Homo sapiens: one gene and its partners. The protein of the gene in region 2 interacts with the protein of the main gene of each other region in a biochemical or structural test. Each region holds a gene or a part of one and is shown on either strand. Other genes may lie near its edges.

Region 1 (7,087 bases), on a different chromosome or scaffold from region 2:
TTATTCAACATGTAGTCAACATAAAAATTATTAAGGCCAGGGGAGGTGGCTCATGCCTATAATCCCCGCACTTTGGGAGGCCAAGATGGGAAGACGGCTTGAGACCAGGAGTTCAAGTCTGAAGTGAGCTATGATTGTGCCACTGCACTCCAGCTGGGGTGACAGAGCAAGACCCTGTCTCTTAAAAAAGAAACAAAACTCAATGAAACATTCTGCTTGTTTTTCATACTATGTCTTCAAAATCTGGTGTGTATAACAGTTGGGGAAATAGATTGACATGCCCAAGTTGTTCCAAACATATTTAAAAGTTTTCTGGTTGAGCGCAGCGGCTCATGCCTATAATCCCAGCACTTTGGGAGGCTGAGGCGGGCAGATCACTTGAGGTCTGGAGTTGGATACCAGTCTGGCTAACATGGCGAAACCCCGTCTCTACTAAAAATACAAAAATTAGCTGGGCATGGTGGCGGGAACCTGTAATCCCAGGTTCTCAGGAGGCTGAAGCAGGAGAATTGCTTGAACCCAGGAGGGTGGAGGTTGCGGTGAGCCGAGATCACACCACTGCACTCCAGCCTGGACGACAGACCAAGACTCGTCTCAAAAAAATAATAATAAAATAAAAATTTTAAAAAAGATCCATAGGAAAGTATAGATCTTGGAAAAGAGAAAGAGCTATAAGATCTGTAGAAAGGGCAGAGTACCTCAGGAAAGGGTGGCTGTCACATTGAGATTCAGGTCAGGGGTTGAGGCGTGGCTGGTTTCAAAGGTGACAGAGGCTTCAGGCTTCAAGGATTTGGGGCTCTATCCTGCAAGCAACAGTGAGCCAAGGAAGGGTTTTGAACAGGGAAAGGACAGTACATGAACAGAGCTGGGAACCAAGGCTGAGAGGTAGGCAGCAGAGCAAGACCTTGAACCCAGGTCTTGCTGGCTCCAAAGCCTGTCCATGACCTTAGACTGCAGCCATTAACAATGAGGGTATGGGGCCAGGTGTGGTGTCTCATGCCTGTAATCCCAGCACTTTGGGAGGCTGAGGCAGGAGGAACACCTGAGGTCAGGAGTTTGGGACCAGCCTGGCTGATGTGGTGAAATGTCGTCTCTACTAAAAATACAAAAATTAGCCAGGCATGGTGGCGGGTCCCTGTGATCCCAGCTATTCGGGAGGCTGAGGCAGGAGAATTGCTTGAACCTGGGAGGCAGAGGTTGCAGTGAGCCAAGATCACGCTACTGCACTCCAGCCTGGGCGACAGAGCGAGACTCCGTCTCAAAAAAAATAAAACAATGAAGGAAAGGTAGGCATACACCATACTGTCTGCCAGCTACCGCAGTCAGCACCCACTCCTACCTAATCCCCAGGAAAGCCTGAGAGGAGGCTGCTATCAACAACCCCCCAATACAGATGACAAAATCAAGGCCTGGAGAAATTAGGTCCTTGACCTGAGATCATCGAGGGTCATTCTGTGCTAGACACTGCTCCTAACACGTTGCATACATTTCTCTTTCAGTCTAAACAAGCACCCTTTAAGGTAGGGACTGTTAAGATCTCCATTATGTTTCATGTTTTTTTTGTTTGTTTTTTGAGACGGAGTCTCGCTGTGTCACCCAGGCTGGAATGCAGTGGTGCGATCTCGGCTCACTGCAACCTCTGCCTCCCAGGTTCAGGCGATTCTCCTGCCTCAGCCTCCTGAGTAGCTGGGACCGCAGGCGTGTGCTAATTTTTGTATTTTTAGTAGAGATGGGGTTTCATCGTGTTGGCCAGGCTGGTCTCGAACTCCTGACCTCAAATGATCCATCTTCCTTGGCCTCCCAAAGTGCTGAGATTGCAGGCATGAGCCACCACGCCCCAATCATGTATATTTTGAGGCTATTAAAAAAAATCTGCATTATTCAAAAGAGGAAACAGCGACCCATTGGAGGTGGCAGAGGTATAGCAGCAGCTAGCATTTATTGTGCACCAACTGAATGCCAAATATTGTCCTGTGGGCTTTGGATGGTTTAATTCACTAACCATCATGGCAGTCCTCTGAGATAGGTGCTCTTCTGCTCTTCTTCCTATAGATGGGGAAACTGAGGCACAGAGGGGGGAAGTCACCTGCCCAGGGTTGCTCAGCTAGTGAGCCAAGGAGCCTGGATTCAAACCAGCATCCAGCTTTCTCTGGAATACCATGGAGGGTGGTGTGGTGGGGATGCTGGGGTGGGTGCGGCTCCATCACCTGGTGGAGCCTCCATCCCTTGCCCTCTGCAGGTGAAGCTGTGTGACTTTGGCTTTGCTCGCATCATCGGCGAGAAGTCGTTCCGCCGCTCAGTGGTGGGCACGCCGGCCTACCTGGCACCCGAGGTGCTGCTCAACCAGGGCTACAACCGCTCGCTGGACATGTGGTCAGTGGGCGTGATCATGTACGTCAGCCTCAGCGGCACCTTCCCTTTCAACGAGGATGAGGACATCAATGACCAGATCCAGAACGCCGCCTTCATGTACCCGGCCAGCCCCTGGAGCCACATCTCAGCTGGAGGTGCCTGGGGCCCGCCTACCCCATGGGCGGGTGGGTTGTGGGGTGGGGCTGGAGAAGTGGGCGGAGCCATGAGAGGGGGGTGGACCCGGAAACAGCCTGGCACCTTGGGGGTGGAGCCCAGTGCTGGGGCGGGCCTACTGGAGGGATGTGGCTACAGGAGGAGCCGTCCTGTAAAAGATGGGCTGGGACTCAGGCCTAGACTAGGTTACTTGGGCTGGAAACCAAGTGCCCCAGAAGCGCTGAGGACACTTGGAACCTTAGGGGGGCTGAGTGAGACTTGGCTTGTCTAGGGTGGGACCAGGAAAGGGACTGGACTTGAGGGTACCAAAGGGCTGCGGTGACCAGGAGAAGGGGCTGAGCCTCCCAAGGCATTGGCTGGGACCTGGAGCCTTTGGGTTTACGACCCCAAAAGGGTCAGCCTTGCAAAAAGGAGGCACCGGTGGGTAGGGTTGAGAAACAAGGGCATGGCTACTTTGCTGTGTACTGGGGCCGTGACTTGGGTGAAGATGGGCCTGAAGCCTGGGGTCGGTTCAGTGACCAAGGGAGCCAGTCTAGGGACGTGGCCGTGGAGGGTTTCCGAAGAGGTCCAGGAACAGGGCTGACCCTGAGTCCTGGAAGCTGGGAGTGGATGGGAGTGGGGAGGAGAAGGGAGCCAGGACTGAGGCAGACATTGCACTCTGCATTCTGGGGCTTTGGTGTTGTGGCTGGGCCTGATGAAGTGGCACCGGGCCTGGTGACTTGAACCTACTTGGGAATGGGTCTGTAACTTTCCCTGCTTGGAAAAGTTAAGTCCTAAGGCCTGGAGCTTTGAGGCTGGGTGTGGGATGGCATGTTTAGAGGGCCAGAGGCAGGGCTAAGATACTGGGGTGTGTCAGAAGCCAGGAGAACAAGGGACCTGTGTTGGAGCCAGGGAGCTCAGGAAGACAGATGGAGTATGGGAAGGGGGGGGATCATTCATTCATTTATTTATAACCATTTATTCAACAAGTACATTCATGTATTTGTAACCATTGATTCAACATGTTGAGTGCCCACGATGTGCCAGGCATTGACTGTTCCAGCTCTGGGAATACTGTGATGACTTGGACAGAAGGGGTCAGGTGCAGGGTAGCTCATTGAGTGGTCCGCGAAGGGTGGAAAGGGGAAGGGTCCTCTCTGGAGGGTGCGGCTTCATGGAGCAGGTGGAGCAGGGTGACACGGAGGTTGCTCGGTGCAGGACAAGACAAGGTCTTGGTGGTGGTCTAAGAGCATGGGCCCTAAGCAGTGAGAATGTGGATTGACTTGAGTCCTGGAGTAATATTGGGGGTGCTCAACACTGGCTTTTTTTTTTTTTTTGAGGTGGGGTCTCGCTCTTTCACCCACGCTGGAGTGCAGTGGCGTGATCTCGGCTCACTGCAACCTCCACCTCTTGGGTTCAAGGGATTCTCCTGCCTCAGCCTCCCGAGTAACTGGGATTACAGGCACACAGCACCATGCCTGGCTCATGTTTTATATTTTTAGTAGAGACAGGGTTTCGCCATGTTAGCCAGGCTGGTCTTGAACTCCTGACCTCAAGTTATTTGCCCGCTTCAGCCTCCCAAAGTGCTGGGATTGCAGGCATAAGCCATCACACCCCGCCAGCATTGTCTTTTGAGACCCACTCAGAAGTCCCTCAGTAAAAGTGCATCGAGTGTGCACAAGTGAATTTAAGTGTGGTTGCACCTGTGTGAGGATCACAGAATCCTGTGGGTGTTGACGGGAGCAGGGTGCCTGTGTGCACCAGGCCTCTCCTCGGATGGGTTCATACAGTGAAGCCTTGTCCTTCATGGCTTCCCATCAAGGAGAGAGCCTCGGATGAGTGCTGGCTTGTCTTGAAGCTTGACATTCGCTAGTCCTCTTTTTCACAATGAACAGGCCTATCTCTGAGCCTTCTGCAGGCAATGGTGACTAACTACCATCTGATGACATTTTGTTTTGTTTTGTTTTGTTTTGAGACGGAGTTTCGCTTTTGTCACCCGGGCTGGAGTGCAGTGGCACGATCTTGGCTCACTGCAACCTCTGCCTCCTGAGTTCAAGCGATTCTGCCTCAGCCTCCTGAGTAGCTGGGACTACAGGCATGCGCTACCATGCCCAGCTAATTTTTTGTATTTTTAGTAGAGACGGGGTTTCCGTGTTGGCCAGGCTTGTCTCGAACTCCTGACCTCGGGTGATCCACCCGCCTCGGCCTCCCAAAGTGTTGGGATTACAGGCATGAGCCACCGCGCCCAGCCTGATGACATAGATGCTCCCTGATTTGCACTGGGGTTAGATAAACCTGATAAACCCATTGCCCATTGTAAATTGAAAATATCATAAGTTGGTCAGGCGCAGTGGCTGAAGCCCATAATCCCAGCACCTTGGGAGGCCAAGGTAGGCAGATTGCTTGAGCCCAGGAGTTCAAGACCAGCCTGGGCAATGTATCTCTACAAAAAATACAAAAATTAGCCGGCCATAGTGACAGGTGCTTGTAGTCCCAGCTGGCTGCTCAGGAGGCTAAGGCAGGAGAATCAATTAAGCTGGGGAGGTGGAGGCTTCAGTGAGCATTGATCACGCCACTGCACTTCAGCTTGGGTAACAATGAGACCCTGTCTCAAAAAAAAAAAAGGAAGTATTGTAGGTTGAAAATCCATTTAGGCCGGGCGCAGTGGCTCATGCCTGTAATCCCAACAATTTGGGAGGCCAAGGCAGGCGGATTGCTTGAGGTCAGGAGTTAGAGACCAGCCTGGCCAATATGGTGAAACCCCATCTCTACTAAAAATACAAAAAGTTAGCAGGACATGGTGACACACACCTGTATTCCTAGCTACTTGGGAGGCTGAGGCAGGAGAATCACATGAACCCGGGAGGCGGAGGTTGCAGTGAGCCAAGATCGTGCCATTGCACTCCAGCCTGGGCGACAGAGCGAGACTCTGTCTCAATAAATAAATAAGTAAAAATAAAAAGAATAGTACAGGTGTAATTGTATGTACCTGTATATGACAAAAAGAAAAAAAAAGGTGACATAGGGGAATGGGGAAATTGAAGTAGAGAACAGGTGAAGAGAGGGAGCTGGTGTGAACATGCATGGGCAGGAGGAGACAAATTTGTAATGTAATGAGGAAATGGGTGGGTGAGTGATTGGCACAGGTGAGGCTTCTGAGCCACCTGAGCTGGTGCAGAAGGAAGGTGTTGATGGCAGGCAGGTAGGCTAGGGGGTGCCTATTGGAGGAGGAGTGACCCTTGACCTGTAGGGCTTGACCTGTTTCTCTTTCCTGTGCAGCCATTGACCTCATCAACAACCTGCTGCAGGTGAAGATGCGCAAACGCTACAGCGTGGACAAATCTCTCAGCCACCCCTGGTTACAGGTGATGCAGGGGGCAGGGCTGGCCCATTGGCTGGATTGGAGGAAGGGGTGGGAGTAGATCGCTTATTGGCTAGGCAGGTTGTGAAGGATGTAGGTTTCCTTGGGTCTGGAATGTGGCTAGGCCTCCCATTGGCTGGGTGCAGGAAGAGGGGGTGGAGCTAAATGTCTACTGGCTGGGTGGGTTGCAGAGGGTATGGCTTCACCTTCATTGGTACCCAGCTCTCAGTGGCAAACCAGAGGATATCCAGGCACTGCTCCAATGCAGACCCCAAGCTAACCCCAGTTCTCTCGGGCCCAGGAGTACCAGACGTGGCTGGACCTCCGAGAGCTGGAGGGGAAGATGGGAGAGCGATACATCACGCATGAGAGTGACGACGCGCGCTGGGAGCAGTTTGCAGCAGAGCATCCGCTGCCTGGGTCTGGGCTGCCCACGGACAGGGATCTCGGTGGGGCCTGTCCACCACAGGACCACGACATGCAGGGGCTGGCGGAGCGCATCAGTGTTCTCTGAGGTCCTGTGCCCTCGTCCAGCTGCTGCCCTCCACAGCGGTTCTTCACAGGATCCCAGCAATGAACTGTTCTAGGGAAAGTGGCTTCCTGCCCAAACTGGATGGGACACGTGGGGAGTGGGGTGGGGGGAGCTATTTCCAAGGCCCCTCCCTGTTTCCCCAGCAATTAAAACGGACTCATCTCTGGCCCCATGGCCTTGATCTCAGCACACGGCACTCTCGAATCATTACTCTGTTGTACCAACATGGAGTTCATCTGGAAGGAGGACTGCCTGAAAAGAGGAAGGATGGAAGGGGTGGGGAGAGAGGACTGATGGGAGAGGAGTCTTGGAAGGAGGACGAGCTGGGGTAGAAAATATACAGGAAGAGTGCCAGGAGAGAAGATGAGAAGGGAGAGGGAGGAGTAATGGAGGAGGAGTTGGAAACTGGGGAGAGATGGAAGGAATGTGACTGGAGGGTAGAGAACTTGGAGAAAAAGTAATCTCATGGTTTGTGATGACTGATTTTTTATTTGGTGGTGGTGTTACTACTAATCACAACTATTAATTCAGGCTGGGTGTGGTGGCTCATGCCTATAATCCCAGCAATTTGGGAGGCCGAGGCAGGCAGATCCCTTAGATCTCAGGAGTTTGAGAGCAGCCTGGCCAACGTGGTGAAACTCCCTTTCTACAAAAAGTTCAAAAATTAGCCAAGTGTGGTGGCTTGCACC
Region 2 (8,788 bases):
CAGGCTGTCCTGTAGGCTTTTGGGGATTTTGTGTTGGGGTGATAGTTAACCTGAGCTCTGGATTTGAGGAAGGTGCATGCGGCGACATGGTATGTGGGAGAGTGGACTAAGGAGACACTAAAGAGAGATAAGGAAACCAGTCAGGAGGCTATTAGAGTTCTGGGCTTGAACTGAGATGCTTTTAGCTGTTGGTTTCTGGGCAAGTTACTTAACCTCTTTAGTCTCGTACTTATACTTGCTCTTATAACCCCGCAGTGTGTCTCTATTTTAGCACTTAATCAGTGTCCATTGGTATGCTGGCGCATGTTTAGCAGCTGGCTTTCCAGAAAGAAAAAGTCCTATTTTGTAGTGTTTGCTGATTTTTATGATATAAATATTCCCACCATGGCCACTTTCAAGCCACCAGCCTGATGTCCCTGAATATGGAGTTGGGAACATATGCACAGTAGCACACCACTATCATATAGCTACAATAGATAAAGATAGCCCCAAGAGCTTAGAAAATAAAATGTAGTAAAATAATTAGGACAAGATGAATTTATTTATTACCTCTGTCTTTAAAACAATTTTTTATTTGCAAATTTATATAACTTAATTTTTAGTAATGGTTTTTCTTTAAAAACCAGTTTGTATTTTAGGAGGCCGAGGTAGGTGGATCACCTGAGGTCAGGAGTTCAAGACCAGCCTGGCCAACATGACGAAACCCCATCTCTACTAAAAATACAAAAATTAGGCAGGCCTGGTGGCGTGCACCTGTAATCCCAGCTACTCAGGGGGACAGAGGCAGGAGAATTGCTTGAACCCAGGAGGCAGAGGTTGCAGTGAGCCAAGATCCTACCACTCCACTCCAGCCTGGGTGACAGAGCGAGACTCGGTCTCAAAAAAAAAGCCAAAAAAAATAAACCAGCTTGCAGCATTCCTGGAAATTCTAACTAACAGATGTTCTTGCATATTGATATGAGCCACCTCCAGCAGAGCACAACATGACCACAGTCTGGAACAGTCTTTGGTTTTCTTTTATGTTAGATGCATATCTCTTCCATTGTTTGTGAGTTTCCTGAGTGTGGATACTATTTATTTCTGTAACCTTAGCCCCTAACATAGTGTCTGGCAATTGTAAATACTTAATAAATATCTAATGAATTTAAAAAATATTTGTCTTAAAAGCGCCTTTTTAAAAAGGAATCCTGGAAACCATTTGTATAAATGGAAACAAATACCTGACTGTGAAAATGTCAAAACTACCCAGTGTGTCTTTCCTCAAAACGTTTTCCAAAAAGGAATTTACCTTCTCCGCGTACAAGCATCTGATGGAAATAACACATCTTTTTGGTCTGAAGAGATAAAGTTTGATACTGAAATACAAGGTAAGGCAGTAGTTTTTACTGGAGATTGTAATTCTCTGGTGCAAGTTTTTAAAATTGTTTTTCTAATTGAACATTATTTCTTTACAAATTTTTTCTAGCTTTCCTACTTCCTCCAGTCTTTAACATTAGATCCCTTAGTGATTCATTCCATATCTATATCGGTGCTCCAAAACAGTCTGGAAACACGCCTGTGATCCAGGATTATCCACTGATTTATGAAATTATTTTTTGGGAAAACACTTCAAATGCTGAGGTAAAAAGACTGTATAGTATAATTTTGTAACTTAGAGTTATAATTATGATTTGGGTAAATAAAGCTTGAATGTAAAATTTGGGGGAAATTTTTAAACTTTATGTGGGCTGGATGCAGTGGCCTGTAATCCCAGCACTTCAGGAGGCCAAGGCGAGAGGATCACTTGAGCCTAAGGGTTTGAGACCAGCCTGGGCAACATAGGGAGACCCTGTCTCAATAAAAATTTTAAAAAATTAGCCTGGTGTGGTGGCGTGCACCTATATTCCCAGCTACTTGGGGTGGGAGGGTCACTTGAACCTGGGAGGTCAAGGCTGCAGTGAGCCATGATCGTGCCACTGCACTCCAGCCTGGGTGACAGAGTGACTGACAGCTTGTCTTTAAAAAAAAAAAATGTGATTAACTCAGATATTAACAAAATGAAGATTATGAGCATTTTTCATGTTTTGCACTGTAGAGTTATGGGTGAGCTGCATCTGGGCCCCAGTTTGCTTTTAAAATACAGATTCCTGAGCCTATTGTTACTGAATCATTATCTCTGGGGATGGAACTCAGGAATTTGCATTTTTAACATGATTCCCATGTATTCATCTAAACCTGGGATTCTCAGCACTATTGACGTTTGGGCTGGATAGTTCCTTGGGAGGGGGCTGTCCAGTGCAGTGCAGGATGCTTGGCAACATTCTGGTTTCTGCCTACTAGATGCCAGTAGTGTTCCTTCCTAGTTGTGACAACCAAAAACATCTTCAGATATTGTCAAATGTCCCCTGGTGGCTCCTCCAAGGGGACAAAAATTGGTTCTTATGGGACAAAAGAATTTATGTAGTACAGTTGTTTGTTTTCCTCCAAAACCATTGGAAAGCATTCTTCCAAAGTTCAGCTTTGCCCAACAAAATCTTATTCCTTAGTATTTAATTTTATGATGGGGGAAGGATTAGGAAAAAATTGCCCAAAAAGTTGTTTAGTTGGGGAGGTAATGAAAAAAGGGTTGACAAACACTGGTCTAAACCCTAAAATTCAGATACCACTGACAAAGATAATATATACCGTCAGATAATATACGTGTTTCCCAGATCACTTCCCCCTCGTGGACTTGTAGTCAAGAATCGACCTTTAAAACTCCTGTCCAGTCAGGCTGGTAAATTCTTTAACTTCACCTCATTTTCTATTGGAAATCTAAGCAAATTCCATTGATTTGGCTGCTTCCCTTTTTAATTGTCTGACAACCCTGTAACCATAGCTTAATGTAGCCCATTGAGAATTATGGTCGGTTTTCAGATGTCTGTAGATCAGACAAACCTAAATTTCTATCTCACTGCTAAACTGTGTAACCTTACGTACGCAGGGTGCTTTACCTCTTGGAGACTTTGCTTCCTCTTCTCTGAAGTGGTGGTAATCATAACAACTAAATTTTTCAAAAGGATGTTTATAAGGTTTAAAAGGAAGTAACAAATATGAAAATACCTAGCACATTGCTGGACAAGTAGTAGAGATTCAATAAATTGTAGTTGCCATCTTAACCTATACTGGATAATATATCAATAATTGTTACTATAGAAACTCTTATTGAATACTTATATGTAAGGTACTATGCTAAGTATTGTACATGAATTGTCTCAGTCATTCTTCAAAACAACCCTGCCGGATTATGTGATTGGTTACATTGCTGTTTGGCAAATACTTGGGACGGTGACTTCTTCCCTGCACCACCAGACCGTAGATGCTGGAGCCCAAGTAGATGTGCTGAGAACAGAGGCCTTAAGTGTGCTTGCAGGGTTTGGCTTGGCTCTTGCACTGCTCCTATTTGCCAGGAATAAAATGTATTCCACATAGTCTCTGGTCCAAGGAGGATTAGAGGCTGCTGGAGCTGACCTAAACCCCATGCACAGCCTCCGTGGGAGCTGCCCAGCCAGTCTGTAGACTTGTGAGTGAGAAACTACATAATCGTTTTGTGAGCCACTGAACGTTAAGGCAGTTTTGTTATCTATATTTTTTTATTTTATTTTATTTTATTTTTTTTTTTTTTGAGACAGGTTCTCATTCTTTTTCCCAGGCTGGAGTGCACTCATGTGATGTCAGCTCACTGCAGCCTCGACTTCCTGGGCTTAAGTGATCCTCCCACCTCAGCTTCCCAAGTAGCTGGGACTACAGGCACATGCCACCATGCCTAGCTAATTTTTTGTATTTTTGCTAAAGATGGAGTTTCACCACGTTGCCCAGGCTTTTTTGGTGGTGGTGGTGGTGGTTGTTTTGGAAATAGGGATTTCCTCAGCCTCCCAAGTAACAGAGACTACAGGCTCACACCACCATGCCTGGCCAATTTTTTTGAAATTTCTTGTACAGACAGAGTCTAGCTATGTTGCCCAGGCTCGTCTTGAACTCCTGGGCTCCAGTGATCCTCCTGCTTGGCCTCCCAAAGTGCTGGGATTACAGGTGTGACCCACCGGCTTGTTAGACATTATTCTGGCGATAGCTGACTGATACAGATAGCAGCAATAACTGTCCCGATTTTATAGATCAGGGAATCAGGTAGAGAGAAATTAAATAATGCTTGCAAGACCACACAGCTGTAAGTGATACTCTTAATAAGGCAGTTTGAGGCCAAAACCCCTACTCTTAACCATTCTGTCACTAATCAGAGGTAATACAATGGCAATTACCCCAGACTTGGCATGTACTTGTAAATCAATTAGAATTCTCTTAGGAATAGATCATATGCTTTTTTGGCAGCAGCATTTTTAACTTTCTGATTTGGTTATAGTGGTGTATCTAAAACAAATTTATATTTCTCACACATATACTCTGTAATCCCAGCACTTTGGGAGGCCAAGGTGGGTGGATCACTTGAGGCCAGGAGTTCAAGACCAGCCTGAACAACATGGTGAAACCCCATCTCTACCAAAAAGAAAAAAAAATTAGGCGTGGTGGCATCTGCATCTGTAATCCCAACTACTCAGGAGGGTGAGGCAGGAGAATCGCTTGAACCCAGGAGGCAGAGATTGCAGTGAGCCCAGATTGCACCACTGCACTCTAGCCTGGGTGACAGAGCGAGACTGTCTCACAAAAAAAACAAAACAAAACAAAACAAAACAAAAAATACATACCAACTACGTGGGAGAGGCCAATGTTAGACTGAACATAAAAAATTGAGAAAGCACATATTCCCTGATTTCTTGAGGTGACTAAATTTTATCAGTGATTTAATTATATTTTCTAGAGAAAAATTATCGAGAAAAAAACTGATGTTACAGTTCCTAATTTGAAACCACTGACTGTATATTGTGTGAAAGCCAGAGCACACACCATGGATGAAAAGCTGAATAAAAGCAGTGTTTTTAGTGACGCTGTATGTGAGAAAACAAAACCAGGTCAGAATCTTTTATTGTCTTTTTTAAAAATGTAGCTAGACATAATAAAAGTAATTCTATACTGTACATTGAAAATTGTAAAACATTTTCTCTTTACTGCAAAAAATATATAGAAAGAATGTTTTCTTCATGAACTACATGAATCAAAAGTAGACTTTTTAGAAAATATTTGTAACGCTTAACTCTCAAGTCGGTGTTGTTGGATGCTTTATATTTCATCCAGTATCCCTATAATTAATTTCCTTAATGTATTTCTCTTTAACATTTAATAAAACTATTTTAAATTTTTAGAATATAATCCTTAACATAATTATCATGTAGAAATCACTTAGTTCAATTGTGAGTTTTTTAATGTGGGAATTGGTTTAGTCTCATTTTCTATTTTACAGTTTCTAGTGTTGACCGGTAGAGGCTTAGTCACAGAATATCTATTAAATTTTGCTAGTTGTATGGTGTAAAAGTGCTGAAGGATACTTGCATGTTTGGCCTGTATGTCAATATTGTATTTCTCCCTGAGGATCTCTTACTTCAGTTCCCACGCCAATCTTTAAATGTAAATGTCATTGCCTATGGTTGCTGTGGACTCAGTGCTGCCAGAAATATTTTTAAGAGTATTATTTAATAGATTTTATATTTCCTTTCATATGGCTAGTCTTTCACACAGCTGTCAGCACTGTTAAGGCATTTGTATGTCAAAATATATGCTAAATATCACGTATATCTTTTTAGGAAATACCTCTAAAATTTGGCTTATAGTTGGAATTTGTATTGCATTATTTGCTCTCCCGTTTGTCATTTATGCTGCGAAAGTCTTCTTGAGATGCATCAATTATGTCTTCTTTCCATCACTTAAACCTTCTTCCAGTATAGATGAGGTATGTTACTTTTTTTATTTTTTTGTCAACAGCTAGGTAATGAACAGAAAATGTGTTTGATTTCAACAGGATATATGTAGGTTTTCTTGATATCCAGAAAATAATAGAGACTGATTTGGGTATCTTCTTCAAAGCTTTAGTCAATTAACTTTAAAAACAGTAATTTCATGTAATAACATAGCATGAGATAGTAATGATTGTCCTTAATTTCATATTTTTCTGGCAATTCCTAGATTCACTGTGGCATTTGTTTTACCGTTTAAAGCCTGTGATTCTTGGCCAAGCGTGGTGGCTCACGCCTGTAATCCCAGCACTTTGGGAGGCTGAGGCGGGTGGGTCACTTGAGGTCAGGAGTTCGAGACCAGCCTGGTCAACATGGAGAAACCCTGTCTCTACTAAAAATATAAAATTAGCCGGGCGTGGTGGCACATGCCTGTAATCCCAGCTACTCGGGAGGCTGAGGCAGGGGGATCGCTTGAACCTGGGAGGTGGAGGTTGCAGTGAGCCGAGGTCATGCCACTGCACTCCAGCCTGGGTGACAGAGCAAGACTCTGTCTCTAAATAAGTAAATAAAGTCTGTAATGTGATTCTTCTCAGTACAGACAGTCCCAAACTTACGCTGTTTCAATTTGTGATGCGTTTGTCAGAACGTAATTCCATTGTAAGTTAGGAGCATCTGTATATATCCAGAAGACTAAAATATTCTATCAGCGTAGAAAGTATATTCTATGGATGAAATCATACAAAATGAAATAACTAAAAACATGAGACTTTTTTTATGACACACATCACAGTTTTTTGTTTGGCACTTCTATGAAGCTAGCATATTAAATGAAAGCACTGAATGGTGAAGGCCTAAACATAGAATCTGTTCCTGGGAAACCATGTGCTCATCTAGGGTGGGTTTTGTGAATTTGAGCAAGTCACTAAGGGCAGGTAAGCAAGTACCCTTGGCTGTAAACCACCCCATAGAGGTGTTAGGAGCAAAGGAGTTAAACCATAAGAACCTTACCACTCTAAAAATGCTCCGTAAATATTAACAATTTTACTATTATACCCCTGAGTTTTTAAATGTCATTCCTGTGTACTGTAATATTCATAGCTATTATTTAAAATAGACTTAAAAACTAGTTACAATAGCCAATAATTTCTCAATTGTGCTTCTTCTGGATATATATGTGTTGGATACAAACATTTTTATTATTTCAAAAAAAAAAAGTCATGATCCCAGAGTCCGCCCGCTCCTGTCCTTTCCCGTGTTCTTCCCCGCCTACCCCGATGGCACAGTGTACCTTTCTTAGGTACTCTTCAAAGACTCACCACAGAAGGTACTAAGATATGAGTGACCTCACTAATGATGCTTTTAAACATTATAAGGCAATTAGTATGTTCTTAGGCGACTTTTTAATATGCATGCCAGAAGATAGGTTTTCTCAGTAATGGATGTAAGAAACTAAAGCTATTACAACTAGAAAAGGAATTTTTATTATTTTAAATAATTGATTTCTACTCTTTCCCTTTTTTTAAATTAGTATTTCTCTGAACAGCCATTGAAGAATCTTCTGCTTTCAACTTCTGAGGAACAAATCGAAAAATGTTTCATAATTGAAAATATAAGCACAATTGCTACAGTAGAAGAAACTAATCAAACTGATGAAGATCATAAAAAATACAGTTCCCAAACTAGCCAAGATTCAGGAAATTATTCTAATGAAGATGAAAGCGAAAGTAAAACAAGTGAAGAACTACAGCAGGACTTTGTATGACCAGAAATGAACTGTGTCAAGTATAAGGTTTTTCAGCAGGAGTTACACTGGGAGCCTGAGGTCCTCACCTTCCTCTCAGTAACTACAGAGAGGACGTTTCCCTGTTTAGGGAAAGAAAAAACATCTTCAGATCATAGGTCCTAAAAATACGGGCAAGCTCTTAACTATTTAAAAATGAAATTACAGGCCCGGGCACGGTGGCTCACACCTGTAATCCCAGCACTTTGGGAGGCTGAGGCAGGCAGATCATGAGGTCAAGAGATCGAGACCAGCCTGGCCAACGTGGTGAAACCCCATCTCTACTAAAAATACAAAAATTAGCCGGGTGTGGTGGCGCGCGCCTGTTGTCTTAGCTACTCAGGAGGCTGAGGCAGGAGAATCGCTTGAAAACAGGAGGTGGAGGTTGCAGTGAGCCGAGATCACGCCACTGCACTCCAGCCTGGTGACAGCGTGAGACTCTTTAAAAAAAGAAATTAAAAGAGTTGAGACAAACGTTTCCTACATTCTTTTCCATGTGTAAAATCATGAAAAAGCCTGTCACCGGACTTGCATTGGATGAGATGAGTCAGACCAAAACAGTGGCCACCCGTCTTCCTCCTGTGAGCCTAAGTGCAGCCGTGCTAGCTGCGCACCGTGGCTAAGGATGACGTCTGTGTTCCTGTCCATCACTGATGCTGCTGGCTACTGCATGTGCCACACCTGTCTGTTCGCCATTCCTAACATTCTGTTTCATTCTTCCTCGGGAGATATTTCAAACATTTGGTCTTTTCTTTTAACACTGAGGGTAGGCCCTTAGGAAATTTATTTAGGAAAGTCTGAACACGTTATCACTTGGTTTTCTGGAAAGTAGCTTACCCTAGAAAACAGCTGCAAATGCCAGAAAGATGATCCCTAAAAATGTTGAGGGACTTCTGTTCATTCATCCCGAGAACATTGGCTTCCACATCACAGTATCTACCCTTACATGGTTTAGGATTAAAGCCAGGCAATCTTTTACTATGCATTAAGACCTCTGATTCAAAACTTATTAGAACAGTAGCTTCTGCTGGAATTTGCAATCACTGAAGTCATAGAAAATAGGTAACTATCTAATTAGAGAAATAATTGTTGTATTTTAAGATCTGAGAGTGTGTACAAGTTTTAGTATACATGCCATGCCAGA
Region 3 (9,097 bases), on a different chromosome or scaffold from region 2:
ATTCCCCCAACTTCCTGAAGGCCTCACCAGTTCTGGTCTTCAATCCAGACAGCCAAGTACTGTCGAATGTCCACAGGCAGGAGGCTGTGCGAGTAAAGCTGGTGCAGCTGATCCTGAAAGGGGCTGTCAAGATTCTGCAGCATTTCCCACTGCGCCATTTGGGCTCTGCGTCAGAAGGATGAGGGTTCCCAATTGGATATTTTGCTGGACTAAATCATCCATAGTTTCATGATTGTTCATTATTACTAATTTAAAATGTTTAAATTATACAAGTAATAAAAATACAGAAAACATTAAAATATATGTTGATCCTACTGCTAATCTTGGTTCTTTCCCCTCCTCTCCAGAAGTAACCACTGCTATCAGTTTGGTGCATATTCTTCCAGGGAGTGCTACCAGTTGAGTATCTGCTATTCCAAGCATTTTGGATTTCAGATTTGTCCAGATTTTGGAATATCTGCATTACTTACCAGTCGAGCATCCCTAATCCAAAACTCTGAAATCTGAAATGGTCCAAAATCTAACTTTTTGAGCACCCACATGACACTCAAAGGAAATGCTCACTGGAGCATTTTGGAGCCAAATTTTTCAGATTAGGAATGCCTAATCTGTATTTTTTTTTTTTTTTTTTTTTTTTTTTTAAGATGGACTCTCACTCTTTTGCCTGGGCCGGAGTGAAGTGGCATGATCTTGGCTCATTGCAACCACCATCCCCCTGGTTCAAGTGATTCTTCTGCCTCAGCCTCCTGAGTAGCTGGGATTACAGGCACCCACCACCACGCCCAGCTAATTTTTGTATATTTTTTAGTAGAGATGGGGTTTTGCCATGTTGGCCAGGCTGGTCTCAAACTCCTGACCTCAGGTGATCCACCTACTTCGGACTCCCAAAGTACTAGGATTACAGGCATGAGCCACTGTGGTCCCAACCTGTATTTTTTTTTTCTTCAGATGGAGTCTCGATCTGTTGCCCAGGCTGGAGTGCAGTGGTGTGATTTTGGCTCACTGCAAGCTCCGCCTCCCGGGCTCATGCCATTCTCCTGCCTCAGCCTCCCGAGTAGCTGGGACTATAGGCTCCCGCCACCATGCCCGGCTGATTTTTTTTTTTGTATTTTTAGTAGAGATGGGGTTTCACCGTGTTAGCCAGGATGGTCTCGATCTCCTGAACTCGTGATCTGCCTACCTCGGCCTTCCAAAGTGCTGGGATTACAGGCGTGAGCCGCTGTGCCCAGCCGGCCCCAACCTGTATTTTAATAGCTTCAATAAGTGGGCCTTTGTGCTTTAATGGGAATTTTCTTTCTTTTTTTTTTTTTTTTTTTGAGACAGGGTCTCACTTGGTCACCCAGGCTGGAGTGCAGTGGCATGATCTTGGCTCACTGCAGCTTTGACCTCTCAGGTTCAAGCCATTCTCTGCCTCAGCCCCTCAAGGAGCTGGGACTACAGGAGTGTGCCATCATGCCAGCTAATTTTTTGTAGAGATGGGATTTTGCCATGTTGCCCAGGCAGATCTCAAACTCCTGAGCTCAAGTAATCCGCCTGCCTCAGCCTTCCAAAATGCCGGGATTAACAGGCATGAGCCACCATAACCAGCCTAATGGTAATTTTCAAATACACACTAGAGTAGAGTGAATAGTACAAGGATCACCATCCAGCTTTAACAAACATTACTATTTCCACAATCTTATTTCATCTATCTCCCTAATTCATTTATTTTGCATTTATGTGTGTGTTTGTTATTTATATTTGATTGTGCTAAAGCATTTAAAGATCAGTGTTGATGTTAAGTATTTATTACAGCATGATCCCTGCTGGCTCTGAAGCTTTTTTTTTTCTTTTTTTTTTTTTCTTTTTTTGAGATGGAGTCTTGCTCTGTCACCCAGGCTGGAGTGCAGTGACACGATCTCGGCTCACTGCAAACTCTGCCTCCCGAGTTGAAGGGATTCTCCTGCCTCAGCCTCCCGACTAGCTGGGATTACAGGCGCCCACTACCATGCCCAGCTAATTTTTGTATTTTTAGTAGAGATGGGGTTTCACCATATTGTCCAGGCTGGTCTGGAACTTCTGACCTCAGGTGATCTGCCCACCTTGGCCTCCCAAAGTGCTGGGATTACAGGGGTGAACCACCATGCCCGGCCACCTGAAGCTTTTTTAGGAGCCAAATCTTTTTGGTGGTCAGGTAAGTACACCATATAAACTGCCCTCCATATAGGAAGGAGGAGCTCCATTCTAGAAGACATCTAAATGCTGTGCAATGGGTGGCTCAATCCCAAGAATATGACACGTTTATGACCTGTGAATCTTGAATATGATTATAGGTTATCAACTTTGTGAGATCCTGAAACTTCACTTAAAATTGTTGCCTGTAATCCCAGCTACTCAAGAGGCTGAGGCAGGAGAATGGCTTGTACCCAGGAGGCAGGGGTTGCAGTAAGCAGAGATCACATCACTACACTCCAGCCTGGGTGACAAAGCAAGACTCTGTCTCAAAAGAACAACAAATTGGTTTTTGCCTGTCACCAAGCAGGCTGTCCCATGCATCTTTCTCCCCACTGTTCCCTGCTCACTGCCAGCTGGTGTCTATTTAGGAAACTGAAACTTATGCTTGTTGCAGCCTGAGCCTAACAGAACAGAATTCATGCATATTTGTGGTCTAAAAAGGTCACATGATTTTATTACAAAATAAAGAGAAATGCTTGGGGTGGGAGAGTCTTCTACTAACATGAATAACATCAGCTGCCTTTCTACCTCCAGCAGGAACAAGGGAAGGGAGGGATTGGGCAGGGGCTATTTTCATTTTAACTCTTTTAGTAGTGCTTGATTTTTAAAACTATGTATCTGTATTGCTTTTATGATACCAAAAAAAAGTTAAAAAAATGATCAGGTGGCCAGGCATGATGGCTCATGCCTGTAATCCCAGCACTTTGTGAGGCCCACAAGACGAGAGGATGGCTTGAGCCCAGGAGTTTGAGACCAAGCTTGAGCAACATAGTGAGATTCCATCTCCAAAAAAAAATTAATGATGAGGTCCCAATTCTTGAGGATTTAAGTGTCTGATATTAAAGGAGCAAGTCAGCAAAGATTCAAATATGAAAACAAAACAAAAAACCTGGTCTCCCCAAATGGATTGCAAACACTGAGGTTAAGGGCTGAAACAATTTTTTCTCATTATCTCTCATTCTTAGGCACATATTTTGCACTCAAGAAGCTTTTCTGAAATGAACTGAATTTTGTGTGTGACCTTAGGCAATCGTTTCATCTTTCAGTAGCTTATACTTTTTAACAAAACAAGGATAATAGATTTATCTATCTTTGTTTTTAGATTTATCTATCTTTGAACATCGTTTTTTGGTGAAGATAAAAAATAATGCAGAGCAGAGGGAAAAACGTCAGATACCGAACCAACATAACAATGCCAGATTCCGGGTCTCGGAAGCTGCAGGGCAGTTTTGGGAGAGGGGCATTAGGGTTAGGGAGATAGGCTGGACAGAAGAAGATCGAGGACCGAGCAGGCGACAGCTCCTATTTCAATCTGGGGACCGAAGCTACCCTCTCCAGGGGGTAACCCCTGGGGCCAGTCGCCCTTCCCTCGGAGGAACTCTCACTCTCACCCCCACCCCTACCCCAGCACACCCTCTCAGGGCCCGTACCTGATTAGGGTTGCAGTCCCCGCGCCCTCCAATGGCTCTGGTCGCGACTTCCCGTCCCTAGTATGAGCTCGGGTACTAGAACCTCGCGCCCCGCCTACAACTTCGGCTAACCCCCCTCGGACCCGCCCCCTTGTAGTTGGCAGCGGAAGTCCGGAGCGGCCCCCATTCCCAGCCGCCACCCCGACACTGGCTGCCATTCAGTCAAGCCCTTCCCAGACTGCGAGCTCACTGGCGCCGCCGCAACTCCGCCCCTCCGCAGGGCGGGACAAGCTGAGCCGAAACCACACCTGCAGCTTCAGCGATTGGTGGAGAAGTTCAAGTAGGCACTTTCTACGAGGGGAGGAGTCCAATTAGTGGACTAGCCCAAGACTGAAACAGCTGATTTTCGAGAACCCGCGCGTGAGCCCCGGAACCGAAACTAGCTTGAGGAGCCTGGAGACGCCAAGGGCTCCATGGGAAGGGGTGGGACCGGAATTTCGACGCCTTGGGATAGGAAGAGGAGGGCTGAGGTAATGAAAACAATTTTTTTTTATTTTTATTTTTTGAGACATGGTCTCGCTCTGTCACCCAGGCTGGAATGCAGCGGCGCGATCTCGGCTCGCTGCAGCCTCGACCTCCCAGGCTCAGGTGATTCTCCCGCCTCAGCCTCCCAGGTAGTTGGGACTACAAGCGTGCATAACTCCGCCAGGATAATTTTTTGTATTTATTGTAGAGACGGGGTTTCGCCATGTTGCCCAGGCTGATCTTGAACTCCTGACCTCAGGTGATCATCCCGCCTCAGCCTCTCACAGTGCTGGGATTACAGGCGTGAGCCACCGCACCTGGCTAATAGCTATTTATTGAAAGTACTGTGATAAGCATTTTAGATTCATTGTATCATTTTAAATTTACAGGGCAACTCATTGAGGTTAAAATCATTCTATCTCCTTTAGAAACTTCAAAACTGATCTTAGTTCAAGAAAGAAGTTACTATTCAGTGATCACCGAGGCTCTAACAAGTGGAGCCTAGATTCGAAACCAAACCCTGTGACTTCAACACCCAAACATTTACGTTCTTACGTTTTACTGTACAGCCTTCCTCCTGGATAAATCAGATTAAAATTTTGAAGACATGTATATAGCTTGTCAGGGTAGTACAGTTATTAATTCTGTGGTTACCACATTCTTTTATATCTCAAGACTCCCAGCCCCAGGATCTAAGTCATAGCTCTTGATTATGGCCCACCCCCAGTAGGGAGCTGAACTTACTACTTCTGATATGAAAGAAGCCAGAGTAGTTGTTTCTTCCAAGTCACTCACATCTGAGATGGCCCTCAAACCCTCCTTGGTGGTCTCCGGCTGAGAGATGTTTGCGTCTTTCTGATCTTGGTAATACTGGATCAACTGCTGAACCCCAGACCTTAATGCAGGTTTAAGTGCAGCACTGATCGCTAGACCCATAGGCCCCCCTGACATCCCAGCCATGGTCATCAGAAGGTCATATCCCAGATCTATGGCCCCATCTCGGCCTCGTTCCCTGGCCTTGCCCAGGCAGTTTTGAGTAGCATAATACAAAGCTGTGCCCAGGTTGTAGAAGGTTCCCACTCCTGGCAGCAGCTGGACTACATTGTGCACAGCTTGCTCCTTCTCATTCTCACAGTCCTCTGTCGGGAGGGAGCGCCCGACCCTTCCTGTGCTTTGCTGCTCCCTGGCTAACAGCTGCAGAGCAGAGGCCAGGGCTTCCACTGACACGTTCCTCTCTGTGCTTCTGCCTTTCTGGAGCCCTCGAAGATGCTGGATGAGGACCTGTGTAGCATTCACACCACCCTGGCGGTAGAGCTGTAGCTGTAGAGCCCAAACATCAGCCTGACAACCAGCTTCCTCCAGGGCATTCCTTAGAGCCAGGCTTACCAAGAACTTGGGTAGAGGGGCCATGTGGCTGAAACCAGGCAGTGACTTTGGGTGCAGAAATTGGCAGGACAAGGGGTCTGAGGAGGGTGTCTGGGATTCCAAGGACAAGGGAAAGTGCATCAAGACATTTGTCTGCTTTCCATATGAAGTGGCATCCACAGGGTGCAGCAGGAGGTAGCAAAGTAGCAGCTCAACTGGTATCATGATGAGTCTGAGGCCACGCATGTCTGGAGCAGAGTACCCTAGAAAGGGGAGAAATCCGAAACATACAAACCATTTCCCTAAGGGCGATGGTGAGCCCAAGACTCAGTTAGGGGGACACCTCATACATCACCTGCTTCCAAGCTTTTGTACTTTCTTTTTAGAGACAGGGTCTTGCTCTGTTGCCCAGACTAGAGTGCAGTGATGGGATCACAAATCACTGCTGCCTTGAATTCCTGGGCTCGAGGGATCCTCCTGCCTCAGCCTCCCAAGCAGCTGGGACTACAGGTGCGTGACACCATGCCCAGCTAATTTTTAAATTTTTTGTAGAGACGTGGTTTTGCCATCTGGCCCAGCCTAGTTCTGAACTTTGGGCTCAAGTGATCCTTCCACCTCCGCCTCCCAAAGTGATAGGCTTCCAGATGTGAGCCACCGCGCCTGGCCCCAAGCTTCTGTTCTTTTTAGGTAAAGGCCTAGGAAATAGGAAATGCACCCCAGTTGCTCCCACTTGGTCTCCCCCATTTACAGGTCACCAGGGACTTCTGTTTTATTTCCACCCATATATAGGGACCCCAAATTACCACACAGTCCAGTCATTGAGAAGTGAGACTGCCTTGGTAGGTTTGATCGCTTCCTGATCCTGTTCTGCCTAGTTCTGTGTCCCATGAGGAAAGGAGATATTTGCTTTCCCCTATGATCAGTGAAGGATGTAATCTCTGCAAATATTTGCCCATTTATACTGGCTGCTCAAACCTTGTGCCCCTTGTCACACACTCAACCTCTATGCCTACAGTCCTGTTCTTTGGCATTTCCTGTATGTCCCTGCCACATTCCCACTCTAAGCTCATGATAGGAGCCAGGGAAATTCAGAATTAGGAAAGATGAGATGTTTGTGATACTCTCATTTCTCTTCATTTTAAAAATTAAATTAGCGGCTGAGCATGGTGGCTCACGCCTGTAATCCCAGCACTTTGGGAGGCCAAGGCGGGCGGATCACAAGGTCAGGAGTTCGAGACCAGCCTGGCCAATATGGTGAAACCCTGTCTCTACTAAAAAAAAAAAAATATATATATATATATATATATATATACACCCAGGCGTGGTGGTGGGCGTCTGTAGTCCCAGCTACTCAGGAGGCTGAGGCAGGAGAATTGCTTGAACCCGGGAGGTGGAGGTTGCAGTAAGCCAAGATCGCACTACTGCACTCCAGCCTGGGTGACAGAGTGAGACTCCGTCTTAAAAAAAAAAAAGGAGGGGAGCTGACACCTACTAAGTGGAGAGGGGCAAGGCTAACACTGGTCACATATGTGTTTAAGGGAAGAGGTGAAATAAAGAGCATTCATCTGTCCTAAGTGGTCTCCAACATTTCTAACTACTTACTGTGTGCCATCCTTGAATACAGTCCTGGGAAAGGAGACTCATTACTTATGTGATATTGAATAGCTGAAATGAGCCGGGATCAATTCCTGGATCATTTTCCTCACAAAGCACTTCAGAATAGCTGTGGAACATTTGATAGATTATATTGTCACTGTCCATGGACAATTTAAATGATCTTGAGAGCTTCTTCAACTTTTTGCCTAATTCTTCAATATGCTCCCAAGACTCATACCTGCAGTTCTTGGTGATGTGGACACCCAAAACTTTGAACTGTGACACCAAGCATCATGGGAGATGGTTTCTCAGCAAACTCAATCACCATCTGAGCTACCTGGTAGGCCAGCTACCCCAGTGGGTATATTTGCCACCATCCATACATTTCCCAGGATGGGCAGCTGGGTGCTGGGTTTATTCACACTTCCCTAAGGGACTACTAGATTCGTCACAATGATGTTGGTATTGCCTTCCTCCCCATTGAACTTTTTGACTCTCACGGATGAGGGTTTCAGTGGTATCCTTTCCTCGCATCTGAAACTGCAGAACATGGGCCTCAGTTGGGCAGCCCACCTCCTCCAAGGGCACCCTCAGAGCTAAGTTGGACAGGTACTCAGGCAGAGGGGCTAGGGAGGGGGCTGTGTGTAAGAGATCTTGGCAGATCCTGGGATCTGGGAGAGGAATCTGGCTCTCCATGTTCTCCAAATAATGGAGAGCATGTTTGATGGATGCCCAGTCTCTGTTAAAGATGGCTGGAGGGTCAGAGTCTCATTCTGAGCATTTCTTGGAAAGGCAGACACCAGGGACAGCAGGACACAGCAAAGCAGCAGCACAGCTTGGACCATGGGGGGACAGCAGAGCAGCCCTGCTGGAAGGAAGCAGTGCTCAGGTTGGGAAGTGGAGAAAGGCTCAGGACAAAGAGACACCAAGACTGGCCAGAGCTAGAAAGTGTCTTAGCTCTTGGAAACTTCGGTTGCCCTGAGCACACCTCATCTTCACTCTTAAAGGATGTGGGTGATCCTCCTATTTTGAGGAGAAACAAGTCAGAGGAAAAAAACAGTCCAAACATCTCATTTGCTTTGGTATCTTCATGACCTGAATTACTATTATTGTTGTTGTTGCTGTTTTTAATCTGCCCTTTCCCAGAATCACAAGGAAACCAGAAAGTTGATGGCTTCCAAAACAGTGAAGGACAAAACATTTGCAAATATTTATGCATCTCTTCCCAGCCCAGACTTTGTCCTTCTCACCTTTGACCCATACTGACAAACTGACCTTTCCCCTTTTAGGCCCTGCAGTCCTGTCCCATATCTTTTTTTTTTTTTCTTTTTCTTTTTCTTTTCCTTTTTTTTTCTGGAGACACAGTCTCACTCTGTTGCCCAGGGTAGAGTGCAGTGGCACGATCACAGCTCACTGCAACCTCCACATCCCGGGTTCAAGCGATTCTTGTGTCTCAGTCTCCCTAGTAGTTGGGATTACAGGCACGCACCACCATGCCTGGCAAATTTTTGTTTTGTTTTGTTTTCTGGAGACAGTCTCACTCTGTTGCTCAGGCTGGAATGCAATGGCGTGATCTTGGCTCACTGCAACCTCCACTTCCCAGGTTCAAGAGATTCTCTTGCCTCAGCCTCCCGAGTAGCTGGGACTACAGGTGTGCGCCACCACGCCTAGCTAATGTTTTTGTATTTTTAGTAGAGATGGAGTTTCACCATGTCAGTCAGGCTGGTCTCAAACTCCTGACCTCGAATGATCTGCCTGCCTCGGCCTCCCAAAGTGTTGGGATTACAGGCGTGAGCCACGGCACCCAGTGACATATCTTTTCTATCCTAAGGTTTTACCCTAAACCTATATTTGAGCTGAGGAAAAGGTCCTCCGTATCTTCTTGAGGGGAGAAAGGGTAAGGCAGAATAGCTGGTGATCTCTGGGACCCCTAAACCATTTTTCTTTTCTTTTTTTTTCTGAGACGGAGTTTCGCTCTTGTTGACCAG

Evidence for each region.
Region 1: of the proteins of IFNAR1 (region 2) and PRKD2, one has a biochemical effect on the other in vitro, tested with the Homo sapiens proteins (one study listed by BioGRID).
Region 3: the proteins of IFNAR1 (region 2) and STAT2 form a complex in vitro, tested with the Homo sapiens proteins (2 studies listed by BioGRID).

The regions. Positions count from the first base shown.
Region 1 is NC_000019.10:46,673,816-46,680,902, reverse strand, and holds the end of PRKD2 (serine/threonine-protein kinase D2), read left to right. Parts: intron 1-2,239; coding exon 2,240-2,507; intron 2,508-3,446; exon of another isoform or gene 3,447-3,763; intron 3,764-5,784; coding exon 5,785-5,870; intron 5,871-6,167; coding exon 6,168-6,380; 3' UTR 6,381-6,587; downstream 6,588-7,087.
Region 2 is NC_000021.9:33,347,924-33,356,711, forward strand, and holds part of IFNAR1 (interferon alpha/beta receptor 1 isoform 2 precursor), read left to right. Parts: intron 1-1,167; coding exon 1,168-1,367; intron 1,368-1,465; coding exon 1,466-1,620; intron 1,621-4,834; coding exon 4,835-4,985; intron 4,986-5,714; coding exon 5,715-5,860; intron 5,861-7,392; coding exon 7,393-7,626; 3' UTR 7,627-8,788. UniProt on the Homo sapiens protein: Together with IFNAR2, forms the heterodimeric receptor for type I interferons (including interferons alpha, beta, epsilon, omega and kappa).
Region 3 is NC_000012.12:56,356,414-56,365,510, forward strand, and holds the start of STAT2 (signal transducer and activator of transcription 2), read right to left. Parts: upstream 3,695-9,097; 5' UTR 3,645-3,694; intron 166-3,644; 5' UTR 159-165; coding exon 28-158; intron 1-27. Other genes in the region: APOF (apolipoprotein F preproprotein), read right to left, coding at 4,812-5,776, 6,317-6,332. UniProt on the Homo sapiens protein: Signal transducer and activator of transcription that mediates signaling by type I interferons (IFN-alpha and IFN-beta).